Linked DNA regions of Homo sapiens. The protein of the gene in region 5 purifies or fractionates together with the protein of the main gene of each other region. This does not show direct contact. Each region holds a gene or a part of one and is shown on either strand. Other genes may lie near its edges.

Evidence for each region.
Region 1: the proteins of P2RY12 (region 5) and XPO4 purify together in Homo sapiens (affinity purification with mass spectrometry; 3 studies listed by BioGRID and IntAct, with this or other methods). This does not show direct contact.
Region 2: the proteins of P2RY12 (region 5) and CRELD1 purify together in Homo sapiens (affinity purification with mass spectrometry; 3 studies listed by BioGRID and IntAct, with this or other methods). This does not show direct contact.
Region 3: the proteins of P2RY12 (region 5) and ECSIT purify together in Homo sapiens (affinity purification with mass spectrometry; 3 studies listed by BioGRID and IntAct, with this or other methods). This does not show direct contact.
Region 4: the proteins of P2RY12 (region 5) and GOLPH3 purify together in Homo sapiens (affinity purification with mass spectrometry; 3 studies listed by BioGRID and IntAct, with this or other methods). This does not show direct contact.
Region 6: the proteins of P2RY12 (region 5) and MRS2 purify together in Homo sapiens (affinity purification with mass spectrometry; 3 studies listed by BioGRID and IntAct, with this or other methods). This does not show direct contact.
Region 7: the proteins of P2RY12 (region 5) and TNPO3 purify together in Homo sapiens (affinity purification with mass spectrometry; 3 studies listed by BioGRID and IntAct, with this or other methods). This does not show direct contact.

Annotation. Positions count from the first base shown.
Region 1 is NC_000013.11:20,798,039-20,802,453, forward strand, and holds part of XPO4 (exportin-4), read right to left. Parts: intron 2,953-4,415; coding exon 2,793-2,952; intron 2,288-2,792; coding exon 2,118-2,287; intron 1,302-2,117; coding exon 1,127-1,301; intron 1-1,126. UniProt on the Homo sapiens protein: Mediates the nuclear export of proteins (cargos), such as EIF5A, SMAD3 and isoform M2 of PKM (PKM2). In the nucleus binds cooperatively to its cargo and to the GTPase Ran in its active GTP-bound form.
Region 2 is NC_000003.12:9,939,688-9,944,102, reverse strand, and holds part of CRELD1 (protein disulfide isomerase CRELD1 isoform 2 precursor), read right to left. Parts: intron 3,254-4,415; coding exon 3,077-3,253; intron 2,993-3,076; coding exon 2,897-2,992; intron 1,291-2,896; coding exon 1,207-1,290; exon of another isoform or gene 1,206-1,206; intron 1,027-1,205; coding exon 931-1,026; intron 723-930; coding exon 588-722; intron 429-587; coding exon of another isoform or gene 352-428; exon of another isoform or gene 214-351; coding exon of another isoform or gene 8-213; exon of another isoform or gene 1-7. UniProt on the Homo sapiens protein: Protein disulfide isomerase. Promotes the localization of acetylcholine receptors (AChRs) to the plasma membrane.
Region 3 is NC_000019.10:11,522,043-11,526,457, reverse strand, and holds part of ECSIT (evolutionarily conserved signaling intermediate in Toll pathway, mitochondrial isoform 1 precursor), read left to right. Parts: intron 1-2,604; exon of another isoform or gene 2,605-3,102; intron 3,103-3,907; exon of another isoform or gene 3,908-4,415.
Region 4 is NC_000005.10:32,142,635-32,147,049, forward strand, and holds part of GOLPH3 (Golgi phosphoprotein 3), read right to left. Parts: intron 1,247-4,415; coding exon 1,115-1,246; intron 1-1,114. UniProt on the Homo sapiens protein: Phosphatidylinositol-4-phosphate-binding protein that links Golgi membranes to the cytoskeleton and may participate in the tensile force required for vesicle budding from the Golgi.
Region 5 is NC_000003.12:151,377,801-151,382,215, reverse strand, and holds part of P2RY12 (P2Y purinoceptor 12), read left to right. Parts: intron 1-1,991; coding exon of another isoform or gene 1,992-2,103; intron 2,104-4,042; coding exon of another isoform or gene 4,043-4,204; intron 4,205-4,415. Other genes in the region: MED12L (mediator of RNA polymerase II transcription subunit 12-like protein), read right to left, coding at 1,992-2,103, 4,043-4,204. UniProt on the Homo sapiens protein: Receptor for ADP and ATP coupled to G-proteins that inhibit the adenylyl cyclase second messenger system. Not activated by UDP and UTP. Required for normal platelet aggregation and blood coagulation.
Region 6 is NC_000006.12:24,408,898-24,413,312, reverse strand, and holds part of MRS2 (magnesium transporter MRS2 homolog, mitochondrial isoform b precursor), read right to left. Parts: intron 3,853-4,415; coding exon 3,740-3,852; intron 2,587-3,739; coding exon of another isoform or gene 2,514-2,586; intron 1,092-2,513; coding exon 918-1,091; intron 1-917. UniProt on the Homo sapiens protein: Magnesium transporter that mediates the influx of magnesium into the mitochondrial matrix and regulates magnesium metabolism. Also permeable to calcium, sodium and potassium ions.
Region 7 is NC_000007.14:128,967,718-128,972,132, forward strand, and holds part of TNPO3 (transportin-3), read right to left. Parts: intron 2,599-4,415; coding exon 2,431-2,598; intron 1-2,430. UniProt on the Homo sapiens protein: Importin, which transports target proteins into the nucleus. Specifically mediates the nuclear import of splicing factor serine/arginine (SR) proteins, such as RBM4, SFRS1 and SFRS2, by recognizing phosphorylated SR domains.

The DNA.
Region 1 (4,415 bases), on a different chromosome or scaffold from region 5:
GAGGCTGAGACAGGAGAGTCGCTTGACCCAGGAGGTGGAGGTTGCAGTGAGCCAAGATCACACCACTGCACTCCAGCCTGAGTGACAGAGCAAGACTCCGTCTCAAAAAAAAAGAAAATAGGGTTGTCATAGATGTAATTAGTTCAGATGAGGTCATACCGGAATAGGGTGGGCCCCTAGTTCAATATAACTGATATAGAAAGGGGAAGTGTGGATGCAGACACACACAGGGGGAGCATGTGAAGATGAAGGCAGGGATCAGGGTGATGCGTTTACAAATCAAGGAATGCCAAAGACTGCCAGCAAGCTACCAGAGGCTACAGATTTTCCCTCATAGCCTTCAGAAAGAACAAATCCCATGGACACCTTATAGCTTGGACTTCTAGCCTCCAGAAGTAGGAGAAAACAAATTTCTGTTGTGGTATTTTGTTAGAGCAGCCCTAGGAAATGAATATCATGGTTAATCTGCATCTTATTCAAGACAGGAGAATATTTCCCTGATCCCTAATGAAAATTTAATAAGCCAGTCCATGCTCTCGACTGAGTTGTGAAAAATGTGCCTAAAATGCAGAACACTTGATAATATTCAATGTCATCACACACAGGCAGGTACAGAAAAATTATAAGACAACATTTGTAAAATAAGAAGCTTCAACCCATTCATTAGGAGAAAAAATATCAGAAAAGCTATGACTGGGCCGGGCACAGTGGCTGGTCACATCTGTAATCCCAGCACTTTGGGAGGCCAAGGCGGGCAGATTGCTTGAGGCCAGGAGTTCGAGACCAGCCTGGCCAACATGGCAAAAGCCCGTCTCTACTAAAAAAAACAAAAATTAGCTGGGTATGGTGGCATGAGTCTGTAGTCCCAGCCACTTGGGAGGCTGAGGCAGGAGAATCGCTTGAACCTGGGAGGTAGAGGCTGCAATGAGCTGAGACTGCACCACTGTACTCCAGCCTGGGCAACAGAGTAAGACCCTATCTCAGAAAAAAAAAAAAAAGAAAGAAAGAAAGAAAGAAAAGCTATGACTGATACATTTATGTCTCCAGAGACTCTTACGGCAACGCATAGATAAAGGAACTACAGAGTTACACAAAAGGGTGCAATCAAAATAGACAGCACTGTTACCTCTGTCCAATACTGCTGTTTGGTTTCTGTGTCCATATGTGCAAAACCTCCTAAGACTAGAGCCTTCATCAATGTCCTCTGCACAGGACTTGACAAGAAATTAAGAGGTGGGCTTCGGCTTGCAAACTGCTTAGCTAAATTCCACCAGTTCTCACATTGAATTACTAAGTTTGCCCTACAGGTAGAAATAACAAAACATAAGATGTATTACTATGTATATACATACACACATACACATATACACACAAAGAAAACAAAAATAAAAAATAACTAGATTTAATTACTGTTAAAGCAAAGTACAGTAAACTTAGTATAGACTTTGAAGTCACAGGCTTACATTCAAATCCCACTAGTTGTCTGGTGATGTAAAATTTATTTAACCTCTATCAATCATCACTTCTCTATAATCTGCAAAATAGGAATAATAACAGTCTCCTGGGGCTGAGACTGATATAATGATTAAATGAGATACTACCTATGACATGCTTAGAAGAGTACATAGTAAATTATAAGAATTCAATAAACCAGACAATGACAATGGTAATAATAACAATGATACTCCTATACAGTAAGAACAACGAAAACATTTCTAGAATTGTTGTAGAAAGCACTAAAAATTTTACTTTCCAACATTAAATTTTAAATATCAGTATTTAATCTTTAAAATGGGGATGTCTAAAAATTCAAATGAGCATATTCCACATAAAAGTGTTTGCAACACGATAAATTACTAATGTGTTACTCATAGGGCTTTGATGCCAAATCCTGAAGGAGTCAATGTAATGCTCAATTATAAGATGGGAAAGCTCCATTTGCATTTGTAATAGTACTGTGACATAGTTTTTAAAACCCATTACTCCAAAAATGTAGGCTCTATCTGGAATTAGGACCGTGTAACCATTTGCCAGTTCAAAGGACTACACTAAGAAGTGAAAAAGAGTTTCTCACCCACACACATACACACACAGTCAGCCTCCAACAATGGGCTAACCTTTCTCTTCTTTCCACCAAAGTGACAAGGAGCTGCACAGTGTCATTTGCAAGGTCCTGCTCACTACTCCAGACTGAGAGGTTACTGATGACTTTTTGTAAGAGGTAGCCAATTATCCACTGAGAACCCTCTGTATCTGCTCCGAACGCTGTACTGAATGGCAGACTTATCTTAAGAGAGGAAACAAATTTTTTAAGGTAAGCAAGAAAGATCAACTCAAGAAAAAAAAAACAGAGAAAAATCGAACTGAAATTAGTATCTAATCTGAAGTAGTGCTTACTTCACATCAACTTTACACATGTACTCATTTCCACTGGTCAAAAAAAAAGACATCCTCAATCCACTCACATTTTCCAGTGTGATTTTCCCGTCAACTTCTATTATTCCCATAGTATTAAAAAATTAACATAGTATTAAACCAAATACAAAAAAGCATAATCTATTCCCAAATAATAATCTGTATCTTCAACAGCAGTTAAAATAAACGATATCAAGGGATGTGCTCAAAAACACATTAAAACAGCATTCCAGTCACATAATTCTCTTCCACACAGAAAATGTTAAACTGCTCTTAAACAGTTCTATTTTGATGAAAAACCACCAAGAAAAATGTTCCTGCTTCTATAACTGCTATCATCATAAATCCAAATGAAGTTTTAAGTTTTACATTCTGACCTGATCATACAGTTTTTCATCCACCAGGAGATAAGTCTTTGCCCAGCGTTTTAAAAACCAAACAATATCTTTGCCCATCTGGGGACTTAGTAGATGAGTGAGATCTGCTCTTATTGCTCGAGATTCAACTTCTGAAACTCTGAGAATGGCAGACAACAGCCTGTAGGTATAAAACAGAAGTCATTTATTCTTTTATTTATTTAGTTGCTGTCTAATCATATTTTTTTCCTTAAAAGTCCTTTTTTGTCTTTCAGTTCTCTGGATTTAGGTCAGGCTATACTTGAACATTTCATCTACAGAGTTTTAGACAACTGTCCCATATTATTTCTGATCTTTCACGAAGCAGGAGACAAGATAAGGAAAGGAAGAGTCAACACTAGAGATGTCCTTCTGCTGAAGTTGTAACCACATGTGTGAATATCAGCATTACTAGCTAAAGAGAATTTTCAGATTCAAAATTTTCAGATTTTCAGGAGAAATACATCAAATTAAATCTTCAGAGTACATGCCAAACTCTTTTAGCATGTACTACTTAGCATCACTACTTAAAACTACCCTGGTTAGTATAGTTTGTGTTTTTATATCATGGTCATGTTACAGTACAAGATCTGGGAATTATTTAGAAAGTTTTGAATATTGAGCCTTGTTTAAATCCAATATTTCCTAGTAAACTTGATTCTTCATGGTATTTTTAAATAAAACTCTTGCTAGAAAGATTACCTGTGTAAGTACACATATTGTCCTTTCCTACACTACATAATTCATATGGTCGTGTGGTGTCAATCACATAGCGTGACATGCAGACAAACAGAAATGTCTTTGTTGAGGAGGGCACATAATCAGAAGTGATATATATTTAACCTGACTTTAGCCAAAAGGCAAGGAAGCAAAGGAGGTAATGGAAAGACCCCATTACACACTAATGAATATCAGTGCTGAGAAAAGGATTCTAATCACTCAAATTCGGCTTATGCTCCTTTACTAGTGCTCTCAGGAAGCCTGAAATGATCTCATCATGAAATCATACACACGTGTTTCAGTTCTTTACCCCACTGGATGGCCCACTGTCACTGCCCTTATCTTCCTGCAGCCTCCCTGGGGTCACTGCCCTTCCTCTCTTCATCTAGCCATCTGCTTCCTCTTTCCCAGTCTTCATGGCAGCATCCTCTTCTCCTGAACTTCTTCTTTAAATCAGGAGGTTTTTAAGGTTCCACCCCAGAATCTCTTCTAATTTTTTTTCTTTTTTAGACAGAGTTGCTCTGTCACCCAGGCTGCAGTATGCCCAGACACAGTCACGGTCCACTGCAGCTTTAACTTTTTGGGTTCAAGTGATCCTCCTGCCTGAGTTTCCCAAGTAGCTGGGACTACAGGCACACACTACTACACCAGGCCGATTTAAAAAATTTTTGTAAAGACAGGGTTTCGTCATGTCACCCAGGCTGGTCTTGAACTCCTGAGCTCAAGCAATCCTCCCACCTTGGCCTCCCCAAGTGTTGGGATTACAGGCATAAACCACCATGCCCAACCTTCTTCACTGTCTGCACACTTCCTATACCACCAGTGCTCGTTTGAGTTTTTTAAAAAAATTTTTTAGGGGGTATATGAACAACAACAAAACAAACA
Region 2 (4,415 bases), about 140 Mb from region 5:
TTATTACGTGTATGAGTCTCGTTCCACGGTCAGACTGTCTGGATTGGGATCCCAGCTTTGCGACTTGCTTGCCATATAGCCCTGGGAAAGTAGCTTCATCTCTCTGCATCTTCATTTTTACATATGTAGAGTGGGGATGAGAACCCAACTTCCAGCGTCGGGTTGTTTCAGGGGTTAAATCAGTTAAGATGGGGAATGCACCTAGAACAGCATCTGACACAGTAATTGCTGGGGAAATGGTCCCTGCCATCATCGTTGTGATTACCCTGCATCTCACCACACCCCCGGCCTAGGACAGCTCTCAGCAGGCCAGGGCAAACACTGGTCCCATTGGATAGATGAGGAAACAGGTTAAGGAGGCAGACTGATTTGATGCCAGGTCTGATTCCCTTTGTACCCTGGAAGGTATAAGGCTGCTGAGAGCCAACCTGGAGATCAGATGTAGAGCCCGGTCTCAGTGCAGCCTCCAGGGGGCTGGGTGGCAGTAGGGATGGGGCAGGGCCTGGAGCTGCCACTGCTACCTGGGGAAGGGGCTTGCCTGCCTTCTCTTTGAATGAGGACCTCCCCTCTCCCGCCCCAGGGCTCACCTGGGATCTGCTCCTTCACACAGATGCCTTCCATCTGCTTGTAGCCCTCGGCACAGATGCAGCGATAACCGCCCTCGGTGTTTTCACACTGCTTGTTCTCTCCCGGACACACCTCTGTCTCACACTCATCCACATCTTGAGGGGAGGGAGGGGTCAGAGTCCTGCTAGGGCCCCCCACCCAGCACCCTGACTCCATCTTGTCCATCTCTCAACACTCCCCTCTGCCCTTGCCCAGGCAACATTCCACCCTTCCTTCCCCCACCTGCCCATATTCCAGCCTCTTCACCATTCATGCTGGGTGAGGCACTCCCAGGTGCCTGTGTCCCATCAGCAGGAGACTCACCGAGACACTTGGAGCCCACCTGCTGATAGCCAGGGCTACACTTCTTACAGCGACCTGGCCCTGCCCCCATGCAGCCTAGGCAGGCCTTGGCACAGTCTGGAGAGAGGAGAGAAAGATGAGGGTGAGATGTGCACCTAGGCCCAGGGGAGCCACGCTCCAGAAGCGGAGGCCTGGGGGTGCTCTGAAGCCTGAGAAGGGGAAGGTTTGGAGGGACAGGTGTGGAGCAGCTCTTCCTCCACTCCTCACGTCCCCTCCTCTGCAGAAGTAGACACTGACCTCGGCACTCATAGGAGCCCTCAGTGTTCACGCAGAATTGGTCAGCTCCACAGTTGGCTCCCTCTGTGCCACACTCATCAATGTCTGCAGAGAGGTGAGCAGGGTGAGAATTTCAATCCCTATTTAGTAGGGAAGCTGAAGCCAGAGCCGTTGGGGAATGGTCTTGCCTGGGATTAAATGGTATGGCAGAGACTGCAAGCTGTCTACCAACACAGAAGCAGACTAGCTGGACTTCAGGCTGCCCAGCCAGAGACCACATTTGCCAACCTGTCTTGAAGCTAAGTGTGTCCCTGTGATTGAGTTCTGGCCAACAGGATGTAAACAGGAGTGATGAGCTCCACCGTTAGCTTGGTCTTAAAACAATGCTTGGACTCCTCAATGCACTTTCTTTCCCTTCTCCCTTCCTGAGTGCTGGCATGTGGGACACAGAGATGCCCAGGACTCAGCTTCAACCATGCAGACAACGCCCAAGGGGATGATTGTGCAGTAAGTTACAGGAATAATCTGGGTACTGGAATGATTATGACTAGCAGAGCTCCCCTGCCAGCCTGGACTACTCACTTTGGGACTGTAATATGATAAAAAAAAATAAACCTCTACCCTCTAGATTCTTTTTTTTTTTTTTGAGATGGAGTTTCGCTCTTGTCACCCAGGCTAGAGTGCAATGGTGTGATCTTGGCTCACTGCAACCTCTGCCTCCTGGATTCAAGCGACTCTCCTGCCTCTGCCTCCCGAGTAGCTGGGATTACAGGCACCTGCCACCATGCCTGGCTAAATTTTTGTATTTTTAGTACAGACAGGGTTTTGCCATGTTGGCCAGGCTGGTCTCGAACTCCTGACCTCAGGTGATCCACCCCACTTCAGCCTCTCAAAGTGCTGGGATTAGAGGCGTGAGTGAGCTACCACACCCAGCCAACCTCTATACTCTTTAAGCCACAGTCTTTTGGGGATTTTTGTTACAGCAGCTTAGCCTTTACTTTAGTCTATATAAGTGGCTAGGCTGGGACCAAACCAAGTCTTGAACCCAGGTTTCCTGACCCCAAGTTCAGTGTCCTCATTCTCCTAGCCAACCCTTCCTCATTTTTTTTTTTTTTTTTTTTTTTTTTTGAGATGGAGTCTCCCTCTGTTGCCCAGACTGGAGTGCAGTGGTGCGATCTCGGCTCACTGCAAGCTCCGCCTCCCAGGTTCATGCCCTTCTCCTGCCTCAGCCTCCTGAGTAGCTGGGACTACAGGCACCCGCCACCACGCCCAGCTAATTTTTTGTATTTTTAGTTGAGACAGGGTTTCACCATGTTAGCCAGGATGGTCTCGATCTCCTGATCTCATGATCTGCCCGCCTTGGCCTCCCAAAGTGCTGGGATTACAGGCGTGAGCCACCGCGCCCAGCCCCTTCCTCAATTTTTAGGACTTGGCCAAAGTAACGCCTCCTCCAAGAAGCCTTTCCTGATTCCCCATCACCACTTCCACTGAACTAGATCAGAGGCATCTCTCACTGTACACAGGGACTATACTACACAGTACCTGTGTACTGGACTGTAAGTATCTGGTTACTTTTCTGCCTTCCCAGCCAGGTTGAGATCTCCATGAAGGTGGAGACTAGGCTAGTCTAGCCCAGGCTTGTGTTGAGAGAATAAAGGACCAAGCCCAGGCCCCTGACCATCTTCCCAGACCTAGCTAGGGCCCCACTTACCTACACACTTGAGGTGATGCAGGGCCCAGCCCTTCTTGCATTGCAAACAGTTTGATTCCTCAGGTCCTGAGCATCGGGCACAGGGGCCAAAACAAGCTGGGTGGAATGGGGGCAGCATGAGGATGGGCAGGCAGGTGCCCCATCTGCCCCTGCCCAGTGCCACACCTTTTGGCTACCTACCCGAACATACCAGATGGCTGGCGTTGCGTTCTGCCTCAAAGTAGCCAAGGCCACACTGGCCACAGGCCTCACCCCCGTAGCCGGCTTGGCAGTCACAGTGCCCGCTGCCCCCTCGTGTCCCTTCTCCTTCACACTGCCCGTAGCCACCGCAGGGCCTCTCTGTTCCCCCAGGACAGGCTGTGGGAAGACACCAAACCAGGTGAGGTCATCTATACAACCTTGATATACAAGATAATATTTTCTCCCTCTCCCTCTCCCTCTCCCTTGCCTTCCCTCCCTCCCCCCCTCCCCTCCCCCTCCCCCTTTCCCTCTCCCTCTCCCCATGGCCTCCCTCTCCCTCTCCCCATGGTCTCCCTCTCCCTCTCTTTACACGGTCTCCCTCTGATGCCAAGCTGAAGCTGGACTGTACTGCTGCCATCTCGGCTCACTGCAACCTCCCTGCCTGATTCTCCTGCCTCAACCTGCCGAGTGCCTGCGATTGCAGGCGCGCGCCACCACGCCTGACTGGTTTTCGTATTTTTTTGGTGGAGACGGGGTTTCGCTGTGTTGGCCGGGCCGGTCTCCAGCTCCTAAACGCGAGTGATCCGCCAGCCTCGGCCTCCCGAGGTGCCGGGATTGCAGACGGAGTCTCGTTCACTCAGTGCTCAATGGTGCCCAGGCTGGAGTGCAGTGGCGTGATCTCGGCTCGCTACAACCTCCACCTCCCAGCCGCCTGCCTTGGCCTCCCAAAGTGCCGAGATTGCAGCCTCTGCCCGGCCACCACCCCGTCTGGGAAGTGAGGAGCGTCTCTGCCTGGCGGCCCATCGTCTGGGATATGAGGAGCCTCTCTGCCAGGCTGCCCAGTCTGGAAAGTGAGGAGCGTCTCTGCCCGGCCGCCATCCCATCTAGGAAGTGAGGAGCGTCTCTGCCCGGCCGCGACCCCGTCTGGGAGGTGAGGAGCGTCTCTGCCCGGCCGCCCTGTCTGAGAAGTGAGGAGCCCCTCCGCCCGGCAGCCGCCCCGTCTGGGAAGTGAGAAGTGTCTCCGCCGGGCAGCCAGCCCGTCCGGGAGGGAGGTGAGGGGGTCAGCCCCCCGCCCGGCCAGCCGCCCCGTCCGGGAGGTGAGGGGCGCCTCTGCCCGGCTGCCCCTACTGGGAAGTGAGGAGCCCCTCTGCCCGGCCACCACCCCGTCTGGGAGGTGTACCCAACAGCTCATTGAGAACGGGCCAGGATGACAATGGCGGTTTTGTGGAATAGAAAAGGGGGAAAGGTGGGGAAAACACTGAGAAATCGGATGGTTGCTGTGTCTGTGTAGAAAGAAGTAGACACGGGAGACTTTTCATTTTGTTCTGTACTAAGAAAA
Region 3 (4,415 bases), on a different chromosome or scaffold from region 5:
AAGTTTAAGCAAGGATATCAGTTTGGAGCAAATTATGTTTGAGATGGCTGGGTATATGCCAAAGTGGCAGTTAGGTATAAAGGCTGGGGCCCAGGGATTGAGGTGAACATTGGGGAGCCATCAGCACACAGATCACCACTTCTCAAACTTTAATGCTCACAGGAGATACCAGGGACTCGCTAAAATGCAGATTTGGGCCTGGCGCAGTGGCTCATGCCTGTAATCCCAGCACTTTGGGAGGCCAAGGCAGGTGGATCACAAGGTCAGGAGTTCAAGACCAGTCTGGACAAGATGGTGAAACCCTGTCTGTACTAAGAACGCAAAAATTAGCCAGGCATGGTGGCATGTGCCTGTAATCCCAGCTACTCGGGAGGCTGAGGCAGGATAATTGCTTGAACCCAGGATACGGAGGTTGCAGTGAGCCAAGATTGCACCACTGCACTCCAGCCTGGGCGACAGAGCAAGACTCCGCCTGGGAAAAAAAAAAATGCAGATTCCAGTTCAGTAGGTCTGGGATAGGGCCGAGATTTTGCTTTTTTTTTGAGATGGAGTTTCGCTCTTGTTGCCCAGGCTGGAGTGCAATGGTGTGCTCTTGGCTCACTACAAGCTCTGCCTCCCAGGTTCAAGCAATTCTCCTGCCTCAGCCTCCCAAGTAGCTGGAATTACAAGCATACACCACACCCGGCTAATTTTGTATTTTTTTTTTTTTTTTTTTGTTAGTAGAGACAGGGTTTCTCCATGTTGGTCAGGCTGGTCTCGAACTCCCGACCTCAGGTGATCAGCTGGCCTGGACCTCCCAACGTGCTGGGATTACACACGTGAGTCACCATGCCCGGCCAAATTTTGCTATTCTAATAAACTTCCAAATGTTGCTGACACTGCCAGTCCCTAGAACACACTTTAAGTAGCTGTAGTTTTTTTGTTTTTGTTTTTGTTTTTTTGTTTTGAGTCAGGGTCTTGCTGTGTTGCTCAGGCTGGAGTGTGTGGCATGAACTTGGTTTACTGTAGCTTGGACCTCCCAGGCTCATGTGATCCTCCCACCTCAGCCTCCCAAGGAATGAGAACACAGACAGGTGTATACTACCATGCCTGGTTAATTTTTAAATTTTTTTATAGAGACAGTGTCTGGCTATGTTGTCAGGGCTGGTATTGGACTCCTGGGCTCAACCAGTCCTCCCACCATGGCCTCCCAAAGTGCTAGGATTACAGGCATGAGCCACCGAGCCTGGCCCTGAAAATTTAAATTAAGGTCTTAATCCTAGGTGCATATGAAAGTCATTGCAGTGCTTTTTATGTTTATTTTTATTTATTTATTTTTTTTGAGATGAAGTTGCACTCTGTTGCCCAGGCTGGAGTGCAGTGGTGCAATCTCGGCTCACTGCAACCTCTGTCTCCCAGGTCCAAGTGATTCTCCTGCCTCAGCCTCCCTAGTAGCTGGGATTATAGGCGCCCGCCACCCTGTCCCGCTAATTTTTGTATTTTTAGTAGAGACGGGGTTTCACCATCTTGGCCAAGCTGGTCTTGAACTCCTGACCTTGTGATCCACCCGCCTTGGCTTCCCAAATTGCTGGGATTACAGGCATGAGCCACTGCGCCTGGCCAGAGTGCTTTTTATTTTTTATTTTTTTATTTTTGAGATAGGGTCTCACTCTGTCACCCAAGCCAGAGTGTGGTAGCACAATCATAGCTCATATAACCTTGAACTGCTGGGCTCAAGTGATCGTCCCACCTCAGCCTCCTGAGTAGCTGGGACTACAAATGAGTGCCACCACACCCAGCTGGTATTTTTTTTCTTTCTTTTTTTTTTTTCTTTTTGCTGTTCTTGATCTCCCGGGCTCAAGTGATCCTCCCACTCTGACTTCCCAAAGTGGATAAGAAGCATGAGCCGCTGTGCCCAGCCTTCAGTGGGGTGCTCTATTTATTTATTTATTTTTGAGACGGAGCCTTGCTGTGTCATCCAGACTGGAGTGCAGTGTGGCGCAATCTCGGCTGACTGTAAACTCCACCTCCTGGGTTCAAGCGATTCTCCTGCCTCAGCCTCCCGAGTAACTGGGACTACAGGCGCCTGCCACCACGCCCAGCTAATTTTTATACTTTTAGTAGAGATGGGGTTTCACAATGTTGGCCAGGATAGTCTCGATCTCTTGACCTCGTGATCTGCCCACCTCGGCCTCCCAAAGTGCTGGGATTACAGGCGTGAGCCACCCTGCCAGGCTACTTTTGACACCCCCAAAATCCAGCCAGGTGCAGTGGCTCACCTCTGTAATTCCAGCACTTTGGGAGGCCGAGGTGGGAGGATTGCTTGAGCCCAGGAGTTTGAGATCAGCCTGGAAAATAGAGGGAAACCCAGCCTCTATAAAAATTGTAAAAATTAGTTGAGTGTGGTGGCGCACACCTGTAATCCCAGCTACTCAGGAGGCAGTGGTGGGAGGATTGCTTGAGTTGGGAGGTCAAGTCTGCAGTGAGCCATGATCATACCACTGTACTCCAGCCTGGGCAACAGAGTGAGATCCTGTCTCAAAACAAAAAATCTTAACTACTAATAGCCCACTGTTGTCCAGAGGTCTCAGTGATTACATAACAGTCAATTAACTTATTTTTTTATGTGAGCCAAAGATTTATGTCTTCATTTCTTGCATTTGAAGTACTCTTGGATGACATCCTTGGCCTGAGACTCCTTGCCATAGTCCTTAACTACTACACAACTGCAACCAACCACTTTACAGGGTTTCCCTTCTCTCAATTTTACAGAGCGCTACCCATTCCCCTAGTTTCTTGTTGTCATCAACCTTAATTAAGTTGATTTGGTGCTCAGCACAAAGGGACTCCACCAGCTTGACATACATAGGCTTATCACAGTTGGATCAAGCACACAAAGATGGGCTTGGCGCTTGTCTAAGGCTTTGGCAGCTTCACAGATTCCACGTGCTAGGCCATCGTGGATGAGGGCGGTCTTCAGCACCTCTTGTAAAGCAGTATTAACATCCATTACACCTCCAGCAGCAATGCCTCCCTCGGCCATGGCAGTGGGTTATGGGTGAAGCTGAATCTTGAACATACCCAAGCCTCCGCCTCCGCGCAACTCGGCAGTGGCAGGGAAAGGGTGATTAACATATTTTTTAATGTTATATATATATATAATACTATAATCTTACAATAAGCTGAAGAAAAGAAAATGTTATTAAGAAAATCAGGAAAACACATTGAATTTACTATTCATTAGGTGGAAGTGGATCATCATAAAGGTCTTCATTCTCATCGTCTTCACATTGAGTAAGCTGAGGAGGAGGAGGAAGAGGAGGGGTTGGTCCTGCTGTCTTAGGGGTGGCAGAGGCAGAAGAGGTGGTGGAGGAGGTAGATGGAGAGGCAGGCACATTCAGCTGTAACTTTTTTTTCTTTCACTCTGTCACCCAGGCTGGAGTGCAGTGGTGGGATCTCAGCTCACTGCAAGCTCCGCCTCCCGGGTTCACACCATTCTCCTGCCTCAGCCTCCTGAGTAGCTGGGACTACAGGTGCCTGCCACCACGCCTGGCTATTTTTTTTGTATTTTTAGTAGAGATGGGGTTTCACCGTGTTAACCAGGATGGTCTCGATCTCCTGACCTCGTGATCCACCCGCCTCACCCTCCCAAAGTGCTGGGATTACAGGCGTGAGCCACCGTGCCCGACCTTTTTTCTTTTTACTAGCCCCTCAGTGTTTAAAGTTGTAACTTTTATTTAATTAAATTTAATTAATTAATTTTTTTGAGACAGAGTCTCACTCGGTCACCCAGGCTGGAGTGCAGTGGCGCGATCTCAGCTTACTGTAACATTGCCTCCCAGGTGCAAGCAATTCTCCCACCTCAGCCTCCTGAGTAGCTGGGATTACAGGCATGTACCACCATGACTGGCTAATTTTTTTTTTTTTTACCGGGGCGTTCCTGAGTTTACGTGGGGCACACCTGGGTGAGGGCCCTACCCCTAGAAGAAGGTGTTGGGCCTTTTGGTGGTGAAGCGTGGCTTGTGCTGATGGCGCAGGACCTGGTGGGGCAGCGGGAACTTGATCTTGGAGTCTTGGAACTGCTTGACGGCCAGCCGGTGGGACTTGCTGGCTGCTATCTCCTCCATCTTCATGATCTGGATGGAATGGGTCCAGGTGGGGTACCGGGCGCCCATGTCTCGGTAGCACTGGGTGACAGCGCCCGTGGTGGTCAGGTCCCAATATTCCTGGTACATGTTGTGGGTGCTGCTCTGGGAGTTTGTAGCGCAGCCAGATGCCGAAGTTCTTCACCCGCAGGCGGTACTTCTCGAATGCCTGCCCACAGTTGACAGTCTCCCCGAAGACTTCTTCATCTTCTTTAGCTGAGATACAAAGTACCAGAAGTGGGACTTGGCAACGACATGATCAGGTGCAAAGATTCGCATGTGGTAGAGGGG
Region 4 (4,415 bases), on a different chromosome or scaffold from region 5:
TCCGGGAGGGAGGTGGGGGGGTCAGCCCCCAAGCCCGGCCAGCCGCCCCGTCCGGGAGGGAGGTGGGGGGATCAGCCCCCCGCCTGGCCAGCCGCCCCGTCCGGGAGGTGAGGGGCGCCTCTGCCCGGCCGCCCCTACTGGGAAGTGAGGAGCCCCTCTGTCCGGCCAGCTGCCCCGTCCAGGAGGGAGGTGGGGGGGGTCAGCCCCCCGCCCGGCCAGCCGCCCCGTCCGGGAGGTGAGGGGCGCCTCTGCCCGGCCGCGCCTACTGGGAAGTGAGGAGCCCCTCTGCCCGGCCACCACCCCGTCTGGGAGGTGTACCCAACAGCTCACTGAGAACGGGCCATGATGACAAGGGCGGTTTTGTGGAATAGAAAGTGGGGAAAGGTGGGGAAAAGATTGAGAAATCGGATGGTTGCCGTGTCTGTGTAGAAAGAGGTAGACATGGGAGACTTTTCATTTTGTTCTACACTAAGAAAAATTCTTCTGCCTTGGGATCCTGTTGATCGGTGACCTTAAACCCAACCCTGTGCTCTCTGAAACATGTGCTGTATCCACTCAGGGTTGAATGGATTAAGGGCGGTGCAAGATGTGCTTTGTTAAACAGATGCTTGAAGGCAGCATGCTCCTTAAGAGTCATCACCACTCCCTAATCTCAAGTACCCAGGGACACAAACACTGCGGAAGGCCGCAGGGTCCTCTGCCTAGGAAAACCAGAGACCTTTGTTCACTTGTTTATCTGCTGACCTTCCCTCCACTATTGTCCTGTGACCCTGCCAAATCCCCCTCTGCGAGAAACACCCAAGAATGATCAATAAAAAATAATAATAATAAAATAAAATTAAAAATAAATAAATAAATAAAAGCTGCAAATGAAGTCTAGAATCTTTCTGAATTTGTAAGATCCAGTGGCCGGTTACCTTAACAATCAATTACATTACTCATTGTAGGTGAAAGAACCAGGAAACCAAGAATGCAAAAAAGATATGGAAATACAATTGAAGAAAGACAACTTTAATATCAACTTCCACTTTAATTTTTGAAGGCTACTAGTAAAAACATACATTTTAAGCAGTACAACCTCTTTAAAAAGAATGTTACTCAGCACTCCTCTTACCTTTCTTGTTAATAGACTTTTACGTCTCATTCCACAAGCCTCTAGTTGTAACCTTCCTCTCAATGCTAATTCAATTAACATACAGCCACGTAATCCAGATGATATACAGTCATTCCAAAATGATGTGTAACCCTATTAAAAAAAGAAGAAGAAATAAAACAAAATAGCTAATTTACCTTGAATTCAGAGTAAAAAACAGAAATATTATCAGCCAAAGTCATATTTGGTGCCTTTTACCTTTCCTGTCTTTCTATAATAATATACTGAAAAAATACAATTAACATAAATTACTAATCGAGAATTTTCGGGGGCTTATCTTTCCACCACTTATTCTTACATACAAACAACAAATAACTTTAGAGGTCATAAGTTTAGAAACATAACTCACATTTCACCAAGCTGTGTGTTTATTAGGTTCTTTCAGAACCCTGCAAACTCCAAGGAATACTCAGTTAACCCCAGATTATAGTGATTTATTTATGTGGACAAGTTAAGAAGCTCAGGCAAAGACAACCTAGCCAAGTTAGCTTCACAGAGAATTAGAATACCATTCATTTATTGCTGTTTAGGATAAAACCACAAGGTTAATCCGAGCACTTTGGGAGGCTGAGCCAAGACGATGGCTTGAGCCCAGGAGTTTGAGACCAGACTGGACAACATAGTGAGATCCTGTTTCTACCAAAAAAAATTAATTAGCTAGGTGTGGTGCTGCACACCTGTAGTCGCAGCTACCCAGGAAGCTAAGGCAGGAGGACCACTGTGTCCAAGAGTTCAAGGCTACAGTGAGCAATAATTACACCAACACACTGCAGCCTGGGCAAAACAGTGCGACATTGTCTCTTAAATACACACACTGTTAATTTTGTAAGAAGATATTAGAAAAACACACATGCGCCCACAAACAAATGGATGGCTATAGGCCTAAAATTCTCAATAATAAACAGTATAACAATCAGATTGGCCCCAAGAGAGAATGTAAGGGCAGCATCCACAGTGGAAGAACGGCCAGACATAAGGAGGTTGATAGACATCTAGAGATCTGGGATACTGGTCAAGCAGGCATCACCAGATGAGGTCAGGACACTTTAACAGCAAACAACTGGGGTTGTTCAAATTATAAAGCCACAAATCTTGCCAGCAGGATTGCCAGCTATCAATTTAAGATACCCAGTTCTCATGAGACAGCAGAAGCTATAAATAACTCTCATTAAGGCTCAGAACAGGGTAACACAATTTTGGTAGGAGAACAGGCCAACTGAATCTCTAAAGAATGGAGGGCCCAGGATTAGGAAGGCCTGGCCCTCACCTCTGGCACTTTTCCAAGGTCAATCCTGGCACTTTGTCAGGCCAGAGTAGTGAGCTTGTGTTTCAGAAGATGACTGACCATTGAGGTCCATCAAACTTCATTTTTGATACAAGGAGTTAAATTCGCCTCACCAAGCTACCACTTCTGAGAATGTGACCTTTGGGAAAATAACAATTTAAAGGAGGCACAAGCGGATAAACAAAAACATCAGTGTTAAGAGATCAATTTAAATGTGAGGTGTAAGTAGCAGACACTGACTGGATTTTAGGGAGTCACTTTAAACTTAGGGTCGGGGCCTGATCAAATGAAGATTACCAGAGATTTAGCAAAGTGGCTAATAATACCAGTACTTTATAGAGGTTAGGTAAAATGCGTGGCTTCTGTGTCCATGAAATTAAAGCCCTAGGAAGCCTGAGAATGAATTCCACATGAAATTAAAGTTACAGATATCTGGCTTTGACTGGCCTGGACATATAGACAGAGTTCCTAAATGAGCCTCTACAAACTGTAAACAACAGAGAACACCTCATAAAGCAATAATGGACGTGAACAGCCCTACAGCCTGCAAACTCCAGCTGAACAGTACCTGGAGGCTTACATTTGACAGCAGAGAACTAAAATATGTCTCAATCTCAATTGCTCCTAGAGTAATGGCATACCCAGAGATATTAGCAAAATGGGGTCTTTAGTAACAGACTTCAGAGATCTAAATTTAGTGAATGGCTTTAGGCATCATCGCTGAAAGACACATGCTTAAACAGAATTGGATTCACATGGGAAAGTAGATGAATGGGAACGGACAGTTCTGTACCACAGCTTCTGGGACTCGTCAGCAATATTCCAAAGATAAATGAAGCCAACAAAGACACACCAAACAACAGAAAAGTACAGTATGTTGATACCCTCCTGCTAAAATCCATGTCATAAAAGCAGGATCAAAAATTAACCATAGGGTGGCCAGGCGCAGTGACATACACCTGTAATCCCAGCACTTCGGGAGGCAGAGGCAAGCAGATTGCTTGAGCCCAGGAATTCCAGACCCCTGGGCAACATGGTGAAACCCCATCTCTACAAAAAATACAAAAATTAGCCGGGCATGGTGGCACCCGTCTGTGGTCCCAGCTACTTGGAAGGCTGAGGTGGGAGAATCACCTGAGCTCAGGAACTTGAGGCTGCAGTGAGCCATGATCATGCCACTGCACTCCAGCCTGGATGACAGGAGTAAGACCCTATCTCAAAAAAAAAAAAAAGATAAAATATGTGGGGAAGGTTAGTAACTGGCAGCATCAAGCAGCTTATGACTGTAGTCATAATTAGTTCCTATGTTCTAAAATATAAGGATGGGAGAGGACAGAGACACCCCAAGTAGGCTGGGCCATACACTACCAGACCTCCATCTGCCTGATTCCCTTTATTCTTTCAAGTGGCTCAATTTGAATGGTAGAAAAGGGTATTGTTTATTAAGTCCCCTAAAACTGCCAACACTGAGAAGAGTTCTCACCATTCCAGTTAAGAGCTACTGTTCTGCTCTCAACTGCCTACTTACCCAGAAGCTTTTTGTTAAGAAGGAACTCAAAAGGTTGGTAACCCAAAATGAAATGTAATAAAAATATTTTGTATAAAGATCATAACAGGGATATAACCGGAAGTATAAGATTTTCCTTATATGTTATTAAAAACATTTACAACATGGGAAAATGCTCATAATATATATTCTACATGAGAAACAGATAAAAAATTATATTATCTAAAGCAGAGTGTCCAATCTTTTGGCTTCCCTGGGCCATACTGGAAGAATTATTATCTTGGCCCACACATAAAATATACTAACACTAATGACAGCTGATGAGCTAAAGAAAACAAAAAAAAAAACCTCATGTTTTAACAAAGTTTACAAATTTGTGCTGGACCAGATTCAAAGCCGTAGGCCACCTGCGGCCCACAGGCCACGGGTTGGACAAGCTTGATCTAAAGTGTAATCTTATTTTGAAGTTA
Region 5 (4,415 bases):
ATCTTATGTATGTGTCTTCCTTGATAAAGAGAACGCACGGTACTTTGAAAAATATGGCATTGCAGACATCAGCCAAGTGGCTTTATCAGTTTATAAAGTGGGCTGCTTCTTCACTTCCTCACTGACTCACACTAATGCTGGAAAAGGAAAAATTTGCTTAGGAAAGGGAGCCACAAGTGGGCAACACCCTAAAATCAGATGAGATGAGCAAAAAAAAAGTGCAATTCAAAACAAAAACAAAAAACCACTAACAAAAACCCTATCATGCTCTGAAATATGGTCATTAATGAGAGTCATCTTAAAAGAGTTCAAATGAGTCACATGCAGAAGTACTCCATCCCAACAGATGACCTGTAAGTACCCTGCAAGGTGAGAGGAAAGCACTTCCCAAATCTCATCAGAAGAAATGAACCCCTCCCTAAGGCTGGCTTAAGGGGGCAAGGTAGTTAACTAAACAACAAGCTCTCATGGAGCTCAAATAATAGTAGTGGGACAAATAAAACTAAGTGTAACAAGTGGTTTGAGGCATGGCAATGGCATACAGAATGGCTGTGGTCCTATTTTTAGAGGTGATCAAAGGCCTCCCGAAGGAGGTAACATCTTAACAGAGAACTGAATGAAGGGAGCAGGCCATGCTAATCTCTGGAAGGGAATCTTTCCACCTAAAGGGAAGAAAAGATGCACAGGCACTGAAATGAGAATTTGCTCAGCAAGTTCAAGAACAGTAACATGGCCAGTGCAACAACCATGGAGGAAAGAGGGCCATGACTGGTAGGAGACAAGGTAGGAGAGAGAGCCAGTGTCAAATCATGTCTGGCCTTATCAGCCCGAATTTTTTATACTAGGTATACTGAGGTAATATGTGACTTCCATTTAAAAAGGTTCACTATGATTGCTATATCTAGATCTCTCCTACCCAAAAGGTGAGAAATGACAAGAGGATCAAATAAGATTAAGTGTCCTTGTCCATGTCCATCTAGTACCATTCGAGGGAAAGACATGGTGTCATAGAAACACAGTGCCACAAGAAGGGGTCAATTAGGCTGTGTATCAGGATAAAACACCTCATAAGACCAATCTATCCACTTTGCTTAATTCCATGCTCTCCAATTTCTGTTGTGAATGCTCAGTTTCCTTATAGTACATAGATGCAAGAGCCTCAAACAGTGACCAGGAGAACTGTGTTTGGTGAAAAGGCAATGTCCAAATTATTTCTAAATAAACCAACATGCCTTCTGATTTATTTCTTGTGTACTTGGTTGGCATCAATACAACTGAGTTTCTGAACCTACAGATTTCAAGCTGAAAGCGTGCCTGATAATGTGGCATCCAAGCTTGAGGAGCTGGACTCACTGCCATGCCTACTGCAGCATAGATTGCTCCAGGTCCTCTCCTATGAGGCAGAGTTAGGAGACGGGCAGATAGTTCAAAGTTATATGCAATATATAAAATTTTACTTTTATAGGCAGTACACATTTATTGTATATATCTCATTAATATAAAGTTGTTAATCTTGTGGTGTCTACAATGCCAGGTAGAAGAATAAGGCATGGATTGTTTCTCAGCGTCTACTCAAAACATTTTGTAACCTTACTAGTTGTTTTTTTTTTTTTTTTTTGAGACAGAGTTTCACTATTGTTTCCCAGGCTGGTGTGCAATGGCGCGATCTCAGCTCACTGCAGCCTCTGCCTCCCAGGTTCAAGCAATTCTCCTGCCTTGGCCTCCCGAGTAGCTGGGATCATAGGCGCACACCATCATGCCCGGCTAATTTTTGTATTTTTAGTACAGACGGGGTTTCACCATGTTGGCCAGGCTGGTCTCGAACTCCTGGCCTCAGGTGATCCACCAGCCTCCGCCTCCCAAAGTGCTGGGATTACAGGCATGAGCCACCACACCTGGCCCTTATTAATTTAATCTCAGTATTTGAAAGGCAAATAAATGAATGCCGTTAGAAAGATATTTGCCTGTCTTAATATTATACTATACTTTACCTGGTTAACTTGATTCTGGAGAGATGTTAGGAGGCCTTCCCTTTGTTCATCTTGTCCCTTAAGGCAGGTAAGTACCAGTGAGAGGAAGGGTTGTTGACTCAAAAGAGACATACTACAAAGGAAGTAATAATAACAACAGATCTAGTTAGAAATAATGCATTACTTCCTCTGGCAACATTCATTTCTTTGCCTCACTATTAGATAAATAAGAGAGGTGGTAAATAGCCAAAGACTGCTTGAAAATTTAAATCATACCTCTACTTATAAAATTAAAAGCCACTGTAATGCTTCTAAATCACTTCGTATGCTCTAATTGCCCTCGAAGCCATTCTCAAACTAGCATCAAACCATACTGCATGTGAGCATGCCGGGCAGTGAGGGTAGAAGACAGTGAATTCATCTTCTACATCAATATGCAGAATTTAAAAATGTACATCAGAAAGAATATCAATTTATACACAGGATAAAATTAAAAATTTTTAAAGTTCTCATATAAAACTCTTGTTTTAGAGTCTGGGAAAACAGGCCTATATATATGTCTGTTGAGCTTGTTTTGGGGTTTGATTTTGTTTTTCAGCACATTTCCCAAGACCAAAAAGCAGGGTGTTAGTAGAGCTAATTCATCAGCCAGGGCTGAGGACTCCAAAAACAGTGTACTTGCTGGCGACCCCTAGTGTGCAGCTCCAACACAGCCCACAGGCTCCAACATAGCCCGCAGCATCCACTGGTAAAGAGGTGTCAAGGCATTTGGTTAAAAATTCTGTTTTAAATTGGCATTTTAACAAAATGTCTTCAATTAGAGAATAATCAACAAATCATATTGACAAACAAAGCGCCATGTTGGAAAGACAAATTTCTTAAAATGAGACCTAGGCCAAAATATTTCAATCAGCATTATTCTCCATGGGCAGAATAAAGAGCCCCTGATGTGGGAAGAGCGATCTTTCAAGTCTCTTCAATACCATCTGTCCTGCCTATGGGAAGTTAGGCAATGCACATACACTCACCTATCAGCAAATATGATTTGAAAATTAGAATTATGCTTCCTTGTTGGTTAATTAATCCTGGCCAACATGGTAAAACAACCAGATGTAAAACAAATACAGTACATACAATGCTGGGTCTCTACCAAAATGTACTGTAGTTAAGAGCACAAGCTCAGAAGCCAGACCTCCTGGATTTAAACCCAGGCTTTATGTCCTTCACTGTGTGTCCTGGAGCAACTCATGTAACCTTTAAGTGTCTGTTTCAACATGATATAAAGAAGATAATGAGAGTACCTACCACATGATTGCTATAAGAATTTTAAAAGCTCATGTACATAATGAGTTTTAGAGAGGAGTTGCCATTCTGTAAGCAGTCAATAAATGGTGGCTACTATAGTATTATTCATTAGTGGACAAGAAATCTATGTGCTTAAAATATTTTTTTAATGGAAGAAATTATCAATTTTTTTCCTTTACTCCTAGGTTTCTTGGCATTTTCACATTAGGGTGAGGTTTCTTTCTTTCTCAGTAACACGGTTTTCAAATATAATTACTTGAAACCTTTTCTTGGGCATAAAATAAATTAAGAAAACATTAGTTGTGGTGGCCGAGGAGTCTTAATGTCTAGTCTAGAACAGGAGCCCTAAATGTTAAAAATATGAGCAACTAGTTCAGACACCAACATGCCAGAATTATACATTATATTTATTTTAAACATAAATATCTAAATAATAAAAAAATAGAAATAATTAAAAATAAAATACAGGGATCAGGTAGCTATCCAGATCTGATTCAGTTGGTCTAAAGCGGGTCTCGGAAATCACTGTTTTTAACAGTTCAGCAGTGATTTGGATATAAAGGCAGAATTGAGAACTAATGTATTAAGGATTATAACCTGAAATTTTTTAGGAATAAGACAGCCTTGCCTAATAGAATATTCCCAGTTCCATTTAAAAACTAAATTTCAGTGGACTGTGGGTACAGTGACCACACAGGTTTACAGGAAGTGAGACTTTCTCAATTATTCTTTAAACTCTCACACAGACGCCCATCTTCCAGCCACACCTTTTCTGTTTCTGTCTGTCCCTTTCCTTTTTGGAAGAAGAACCCAAGTGCTGTCCCTTCTCCAGCTCTTCCCCAGCGGCTTTCAGCACTCTTCCTTGCACAGAAGTTGGCAACCTGGCGATGAGGGGGGCCACCAACCATACACCCCTGCGTTCGGAGGAACTAAAATCAGAAACAGGTGTTACACCGGAGAAAGCATCCTTTCCCCTGCTCTCACAGTTATAACAGAAACTCCAAAGCGAAACTTTGATGTATGAGACACACAGACTGTTCTAAAATTTCCCTTTTATTTCTGTATTATCTTTCCTTTTTCCGAACACTAGACATTTGCATGAGCTTTCCACCTAAGCCTACAGAAAGCAATAAAACATGC
Region 6 (4,415 bases), on a different chromosome or scaffold from region 5:
TCTCCCCACAGCCAATCTCTAGGCCGGAGACCCATGCCAGCCTAGCCTCTCTCCTTCCCCTCCTGCTCCCTTTAAGATCCCTGTCTTTCTCCTAACAGCATGAGCTCCTGAGAGCTTACCCAGCCTGTGGAGCCCATGACTTACCACTGTTTACATCTTCTTTCTCTCTTCTGCTTTCCCCCTGCTTGGTAACTGGGCTCCCACTACTTATCATCTCACTGGCTGGTGCTAGCTGGTGCTCATTAATTACCCCAAGCAGGAAGTGTAGCCATCTATTCTTTCAGAGCAAGGCAGACAAAAGAAAAGTGTGCCAGGTTCACCCAACCCAATGCACCTCATGTCCTCTCTACCCTCTCTCCTCCTCCCACTCTGGTTAGTATGCTCCCAGCACCAACTCTTGCATGTAGCCAGTTCCTGAACAGTACCATCCTGACTTAACAGGAGGAAGAAAAGATAATGAAAGATTTGTGGGGTCAGGGAAGCAGAGAACCACCCTTGTTTAGAGCCTGACAGGAGTCTCAGACATCTAAGGACTCTTAATTTAAAGGAGGAGTCACTGGAAGAACTGTGCGTGATTCCTATGTCAATCTAGGTCTCAAAAAGATGCATCATTTACCTGGCTCAAACAAAGGATTGTACAAACAAATCAAAAAATGACTTGATGAAATGATTTAATAAAATAATTATCACATGTCAAGCATTTTTATAATATACATAGAGTCTTTAGTTCTATTTGACTGGGTCATAACATTTAAGAATTAAGTGATATCTCCATGTAGGATCCTTAGAGACGACTTGTTTCGGGGCAGGATGTGGTCAGGGGACATGCCATTGAAACAATACCCCAACTTGTCTTCCCACTCAATGACATTTCAAAATCAGAATAAACCCAAGAAGCTAAATAAAAACAGACTTACCCAATATTGCAGGAGTGCTTCTATAGCTCTAAACTCAAAAGGTAAAGGGTATGTAACGAGTTGACCCTCTCCAGACAACTGTGAAGGGAGTTCCCGGAACAGCCATTGCTCTAAGTTTAAATTACGATAATCTAATATCAGAAGACACTCTGGAGTTATCACAGCTTTCAAATACTGTTAAAAAAAAAAAAACCAAAACATATAAATATGTGAGTGTATATACACACATGCATGTATATACATATATATGTATACATACATATATATATGCAAATTGTAGAGCTGTAGGAAAAAAGAACATTCATAAAATTTGGTTTAATACTTTACTAATTGTGGATTAAGACTAAACCAAATCAGTGTTCATTTTTGTTTTTCAAAAAAATCAAGGTTTTTTTTTTCAAAAGAAAAGAAACTTAAAAAATATATGTCTTGATACTGCTAACTCACTCTCAATAAAACTGGAATTATTCACATAAATTATATATTTACTAAGACTTCTGGGGTAATCATGAAAAAAAAACAAAAACAAAAAAAAAAACACCAAAAAATACCCCCAGAAAGCCGGGCATGGTGGCTCATGCCTGTAATCCCAGCACTTTTGGAGGCTGAGGAAGGTGGATCATGAGGTCAAGAGATCGAGACCATCCTGGCCAACATGGTGAAACCCCGTCTCTACTAAAAATACAAAAATCAGTTAGGCGTGGTGGCCCACACCTGTAGTCCCAGCTACTTCAGAGGCTGAGGCAGGAGAATCGCTTGAACCTGGGAGGCGGAGTTTGCAGTGAGCTGAGATTGTGCCACTGCACTCCAGCCTGGCGACAGAGCGAGACTCCGTCTTTCTTTTTTGGAAAAAATAAATAAATAAATAAAGGGAACAAGATAAGGTCTTCCTAAAAGTCAGGTATTGAGCAGACTTTTAGAAAAGATTTAGTTTAATCATAATTAGTTTGGCACAAATGGAAGTTTCCTTTTTAAAACACCACTAAAGCATATAAACAAAATCTGAAATTAAGATGAAACATAGCCTTACTACTCTAATTTAGAACAATATGAAATTAGAATTTTTTCTAAAAAGACTGGTTATCTTGTATGTTAAAAGTAGATAAAGGTAGCCACTTTATCAGTGATATAGAAATTAGAGATAATTTTCTATTTTTACATTTTTCCAACATTCTATCATGAATTTTTTTTTCTTTTTTTTTTTTGAGATGGAAGTCTTGCTCTGTCACCCAGGCTGGAGTGCAGTGGGGCAATCTCGGCTCACTGCAACCTCCACCTTCAGGGTTCAAGCTATTCTCCTACCTCAGCCTCCTGAGTAGCTGGAATTACAGGCACCCGCCACCATGCCTGGCTAATTTTTGTATTTTTTAGTAGAGACGGGGTTTCACCATGTTGGTCAGGCTGGTCTCGAACTCCTGACCTCAGGTGATCCACCCCTCTCGGCCTCCCAAAGTGCTGGGATTACAGATGTGAGCCACCACAACCTAGCCTCATGAAAATTTTTATACAGAAAAGTTGAAAGATTGCAGTGAACACCATATACCCACCAGTTAGATTACACAATTATCATTCTGCTGAATTTGCTTTTTCACATACCTGTCTGTCTCTCCATGAAAGAGACACTGTTTTGAAGAATGCTAGCTACTGATTCCAAGAGTAGAGAATATTTCTGAAGAAAATCACATGGGAGAAGACTGCTTCATTTTTGATAAAGTATTTTTTATTTACTTATTTATTTTTAGAGATGGGATCTTGCTATGTTGCTTAGGCTGGTCACAAACTCCTGGTCTCTGGTGACCCTCCCACTTCAGCCTCCTGAGTAGCTGGGACTAAAGGCACATGCTACCAATACTGGCCCATTTTTTATTATTTTGATTAGTTCTAGAAAAATGAACAAAAATCTGCCATCAAAGACTCTTTGAAGAAAGTCTCATACCCACTACAGGGCCAATACCATTCATCTATTTTTGAACCTAAACATTAGCCCACCAAAATAACTGAAACCCACATTAACTCTGAATCACTAAAGAAAGTCAAATTATTATTTGGCATGCTCTGAATAGGTAAGGGAAAATACAATATATTTCAGAAAGTTTTCCATTAAAAAAATTTAAACTGGCCAGGCACGGTGGCTCATGCCTGTAATCCCAGCACTTTGGGAGGCAGAGGCAGGTGGATCACCTGAGGTCGGGAGTTTCAGAGCAGCCTGACCAACATGGAGAAACCCCATGTCTACTAAAAATACAAAATTAGCTGGGTTTGGTGGCTTATGCCTGTAATCCCAGCTACTCAGAAGGCTGAGGCAGGAGAATTGCTTGAACCTGGGAGGTGGAGGTTGCAGTGAGCCAAGATCGTGCCAGCCTGGGCAACAAGAGCAAAACTCCATCTCAAAAAAAAAATTAAGGCTATAAAATTTAATGTCTATTCCTGTGCTATTTAGAAAGCCAGAATACATTTTTGGTAGCTCAGGTTATACTATAATTACATGTAACTGTACACAATTGGATATATATCTATTATAAATCAGGATTGTCTTATAGTTTCCAGAACTAGAGAGTAAATCCCAACAGTGAGAATGAACACCACAGTCAGAGCTTTTCCAACTTAAAACACAGCAGTGTTATGCCTATTGAACATGTGCATATAATCCATATAAAATGAGTTCTACTCATAATAGCATATTAAGCTATAAAACATCCTATGTTTCAGGTAGCTATTTCTATTCCAAAATTACTTTTAACCTAGATACTAATCAAGATAGTTAGAAGGTAACTTTTATAAGATTGTATTGGAGAAACATAGATGAAAATAAAATATTTTACCTCCATTCTCATGATAATCCTATTGTTTCTGACTGTGATACTCATTACATGCTGAAATCTCAAATCTCTGGCTTGAAGACCTAACTCTTGGTATAATTCAGTTTTCTTCCTTTCTATAAAAGAAATAAACAGAGAGGGCTAAACCAAATACATTAAATGGCTTAGATTTTTCCATCAGAGCAGTCCTCCCACCACCATCAAGACAATTTTTGGTTACTACCAGAAACAAAAACTAAAATTAAGTCTTTTAATATCCATTTTTACCTAGAAAACATACTCGGGCTAAATAGAGTCAAACTAATGATTTTCTTATCTATACCTCATAACTTTCTCACTACTTAGAAGACCCTTGAGACTAATACAGAAACCACAACTATGCATCATTAGAACCTATAAATGTCCAGCTCTAGAGACAGGTTATCTCTCTTAAATATAAACTGTACACAACTATATTTTCTATTTTTACTACAACATCATCTTCAGTATTTTATATATGTGAACAGATAAGCTTGATTTTCTTTGTTCTTAGACTAATACAAAAATGAGAAAAGCTGAATTTATTACCTGAGACTGATTCATTCTCAAGGGAGATGTGAAACTCACATCTGAAGTCACACTGTAAAGTAATGCCTAGTCTCACTTTTTAAAGTAGCTGTCCACAGAGAGCCATCAGCAG
Region 7 (4,415 bases), on a different chromosome or scaffold from region 5:
ATATGCACACATGCGAACATGAACACACACACACACACACACACACACTCGCTCTCTCTTTTTTGAGATAGGGTCTCACTCTGTTGCCCAGGCTGGCGTGCAGTGCACTGCAGCTTTGACCTTCCAGCCTCAAGTGATCCTCCCACCTCAGCTTCCCAGGTAGCTCAGACTACAGAAGTCCATCAACATGCCTGGCTAATTAAAAACAATTTTTTTTTTTAAGAGATGAGGAGTCTTTCTATGTTGCCCAGACTGGTCTCAAACTCCTGGGCTCAAGAGATCCTCCCAAAGTGCTGGAACTACAGGTGTAAGCACTTGACCAGTATATTTTTAAAATTAAACAGATTTCCAAAAACTCTTGAGCTTAAAGATCAAAAGTGATCCAGAGTAAAGGTTCAGATACCTGAAAGAGCAGGGGCAAAAAGTATACTAAGCCACCATGTCAGAAAGTATACATATGAGACATATGAGTCCAGAATCTTAAGGATTTTAAGGCCATCTCTCTCAGAATAAGTCCTATCCATTCAGTTCCTTTGTGATATCTGCCTGTTCTTTGTGTTAAAAAACCTTGCTCTTGTTGCTGTTTAATTTACTTATATATTTTTTATATAAGTATATCTAAGAATTCTCTTTATGCCTTTTCTATGCACAAAAATTGTCTACTCCCTTTACTTCCTTCCTTTCTAAAATAAAAATTCTACAGACTTCCTCTGGGTTCTTATTTTCAGTTTAATTGTTGTCCTTTGGGTCAGCACTAATATTTCTTCATCCCTTTCTTAAGTGGAATGTATACTTCAGTCATAGTTTTGGGCTGTAAAATTACTCTTTTATACCTAATTTTTTTTACATTATATATTTTCCCATCATATTCATTTATGGCCATAATAGGCCAGAGCAAAAGTATTATAAATGCTCATGAAGTACTAAGCATTTCTTAATTATGGATACATAACAGCTCCTTAATTCTTAAAAATACATAATAGTTGTTATATAGCAAACTTTTTCTTTTTTGAGACAGGGTCTTGCTATGCAGCTCAGACTGGAGTGCAGTGGCATGATCATAGCTCACTGCAGGCTGGAACTCCTGGGCTTAAGCAATCCTCCTACCTCACCCTCCTGAGTAGCTGGGACTATAGATGTATGCCACCACACCCAGCTAATTAAAAAGAAAAAAAATTTTTTTTTTTTTTGTAGGGATGGGGTCTATGTTGCCCAGGCTGGTAGTCTCAAGCTCCTGGCGTCAAGTGATCCTCCTGCCTTGGTCTCCCAAAGTATTGGGAAGACAGGCATGAGCCATTGTGTCTGGCTGATATACAGTACACTCCTTAGAGTACATGGCTACCTGGTTTCTATTCCTGTCCAAACTTCTTGTTCTCATTTTTTGTTGTTGTTGTTCGCACTTAACAATATGCTTACAATCAAGAATGTTTTCATAAAGTTAGATTTACATAAGTTTTCTGTTACTTGGGAACCAAATGTATTTGTAAAAAAGTTTAAGCAGAGTATGAAGACTTTTTCCCTCAGGTCAAGGACTTTTGAATTAAATTTGCTGATTCCTGGAGGCTCAAAAAGTACTTTTCTTTAGAAAAACAAATATGCTACTCTATCAGGTTGAAATGGAACATGTGTATTGAACCAGAGAGGAATAGGTACTATCTGTTATATATTATTATTATCAATTTTATATTCTGTGGTTCTGTAAGACAGCTCACTTTAACTAGGTCCCAATGAGTACTTTCCTGAACTGCTTTTACAGTAATATTAAAAATTATAAATTCCATTTTAAAAATGATTTCAGGTTATATTATACTTTACCATTCTACTCAACTTTCACACAGTACACATAACCTGAGTTATGGTCATGTGGCCCAGTACTGAAATTACTTGGGCATTATTAGATAGCTTTAAAAAAACAACTCCATCCTTAGGTGGGTGATAAAGGATCTGGTTCAAAGAAATCCAAAGGGGAAATATATCCAACTGTACATTGTGGGTTACTTTGACAATTATGTGCTTCCAAATGTTCTGGCTAGATGTATCACCAAGAAATAATACAGTGCTATAGAATAAGTCTGAAAGGATTAAATACTTCTTGAGTAATACGTAACTAATATAACTGACATTTGGGCATCTCTCACAAGTGAACAAATTTCACATTGGACAGCCACACAACTGAATTCAATGCTTGATACTTACTTCTGGTAATATACCCCCTATGACAGTGACATAGAAACATGCTTTAAAGAACTCAATAATAAATTACTGATCTTTACGGGCCTCTTCATCTACCAATCTAATTTGGCAATATGCCTAAATTTGGTTCCATGGACAGAAAACAGGGCTAGTTTCAAAATTAGGGTTGGCCTTAAGGAACCAAAGCCTATTACATTTAGGGACTATGAGATAAATTCCTCATGAAAACAATCTTACCGGTCTGTCAACCTGCATGATCTCCCAGAGCACTTCAGCCACATCTGGTAGGGTATAGGGGGGGAGGCAAAAGCAGCAGGTGTGCAGCAGCTGGCTGACAAGCTGCTGTCCAAGCTGGTTCATCACCTGTCCAATCAGTTCTTTCCGTAATTCAAAGTCTTCTTCATGCTGTATGTAGGAAAGCAGGAACATCAGATAAATTCTAGTCTCAACTTCCCAAAGACCAAGCACTCTTTCCCCTTTAGTAATTTCTCTTTAATAGGAAAGTGTGTGTGTGTGTGCACGCGTGGCTGTGTGTGTGTGTATGCAGGTGTGTGTAAAATGACAGCTGGATTCACAAAGTCCAGAAGTTTTTTGTCTTTAGAAAGAAAATGAAGGAGTTTATTAGTATCCAAGGAATGAACATGGGTTTCAACAGAGATTAATGCTTAGATTTTTCATGATTTGAAGGCAGAAAACATGGTTAAGAATTAAAGTTAGCAATTTTTAAAATTTTTTTCTCTTCATCTTCTATGTGATGGTATTAATTTTTTTTTAATGTGAAAAATAACTTGTGTTCCTATTTCCTTTTTTAAAAACTAAGTCAGCCTGGCATGGCAGCACACACCATAGTCCCAGCCACTCCAAAGGCGCAGGTAGGGGAACAGCTTGAACCCAGTGTTCTGGGCTAGAGCATGCTATACCAATTGGGTGCCTGTACTAAGTTCAGCATCAATGTGGTGACCTCCCAGGAGTGAGGAACCACTCCTGGGTTGCCTAAGGAGGGAGGGGTGAACAGCCCAAGTCAGAAACAGAGTGGGTCAAAATTCCATTCTGATCTGTAGTGGGATCTCGCCTGTGAATGGCCACTACAGTCTGTCTGGGTAACACAGCCGGAACCCCAAGTCACAACAAAACAAAACAAAACAAAACCAACTGAAATTAGAATTGAAGACGTCTATCAGAGATCTAATTTTTTCTATCGAAAAAAAAAAAACCCTTTTTTTCTTCTTGCGGTCTTTAATTTTTTTTTTTCTGAGACAGCGTCTTGCTCTGTCACCCAGGCTGGAGTGCAGTGGCCTGATCTTAGCTAACTGAAACCTCCATCCCCTGGGTTCAAGCAATTCTCCTGCCTCAGCCTCCCTAGAAACTGGGATTACAGGCATACACTACCACACTTGGCTAATTTTTGTATTTTTAGTAGAGACAGGGTTTCACCATGTTGGCCAGGCTGGTCTTGAACTCCTGACCTCAAGTGATCTGCACGCCTTGGCCTCCCAAAGTGCTGGGATTACAGGCGTGAGCCACTGCGCCTGGCCCTTCTTGTGGTCTTTAAATACACATGTATTTCTAATACCTTGAGAAAAATATTTTTTAAATTGCCTTTCCCTTCTAGTTATTTTCTTCTCTCTTTTACTGCCAAACTTCTTAAATGAATAGCCTAAATAGAATGCAGAATACTTACTTCTTCACTGCTCTCCCCTGTCTACAATTCTACTCCACATCTAATCAAACCTACCTTCGAAATTCCTGTGAAGCACTTTACTACTCCCACTGCTTAGTTGTCTACTAACAAACTTAGTACTATTCTGACTTGCTCTGATCTTGGCTTAGAGGCAGTATGACTATCTGCCTCTCTAATCCATCAAAATTCTACCTCTAATTCATGGCTTCATTTAAATCCCTCCCCTTCCATAAAGTTATTCCAACTCTTTTTGGTCTAGAGCTTTCCCTCGTCTGATCTCATACCAATCATGACTTTTATCACTCATCTGACAATCAAATACTGGAGGCCAAGGTGGGAGGATCACTTGAGGCCAGGAGTTCAAGACCAACCTGGGCAACATGGTGAAATGCCATCTCTACAAAAAATATAAAAACTAGCCAGGCATGGTGTTGAATGTCTGTAGTCCTGGCTACTCAGTAGCTGAGGATCCCTTGAGATTCACATCACTGTACTCCAGCCTAGGCGACAGAGCAAGACCCTGTTTCAAAAACAAATGAAA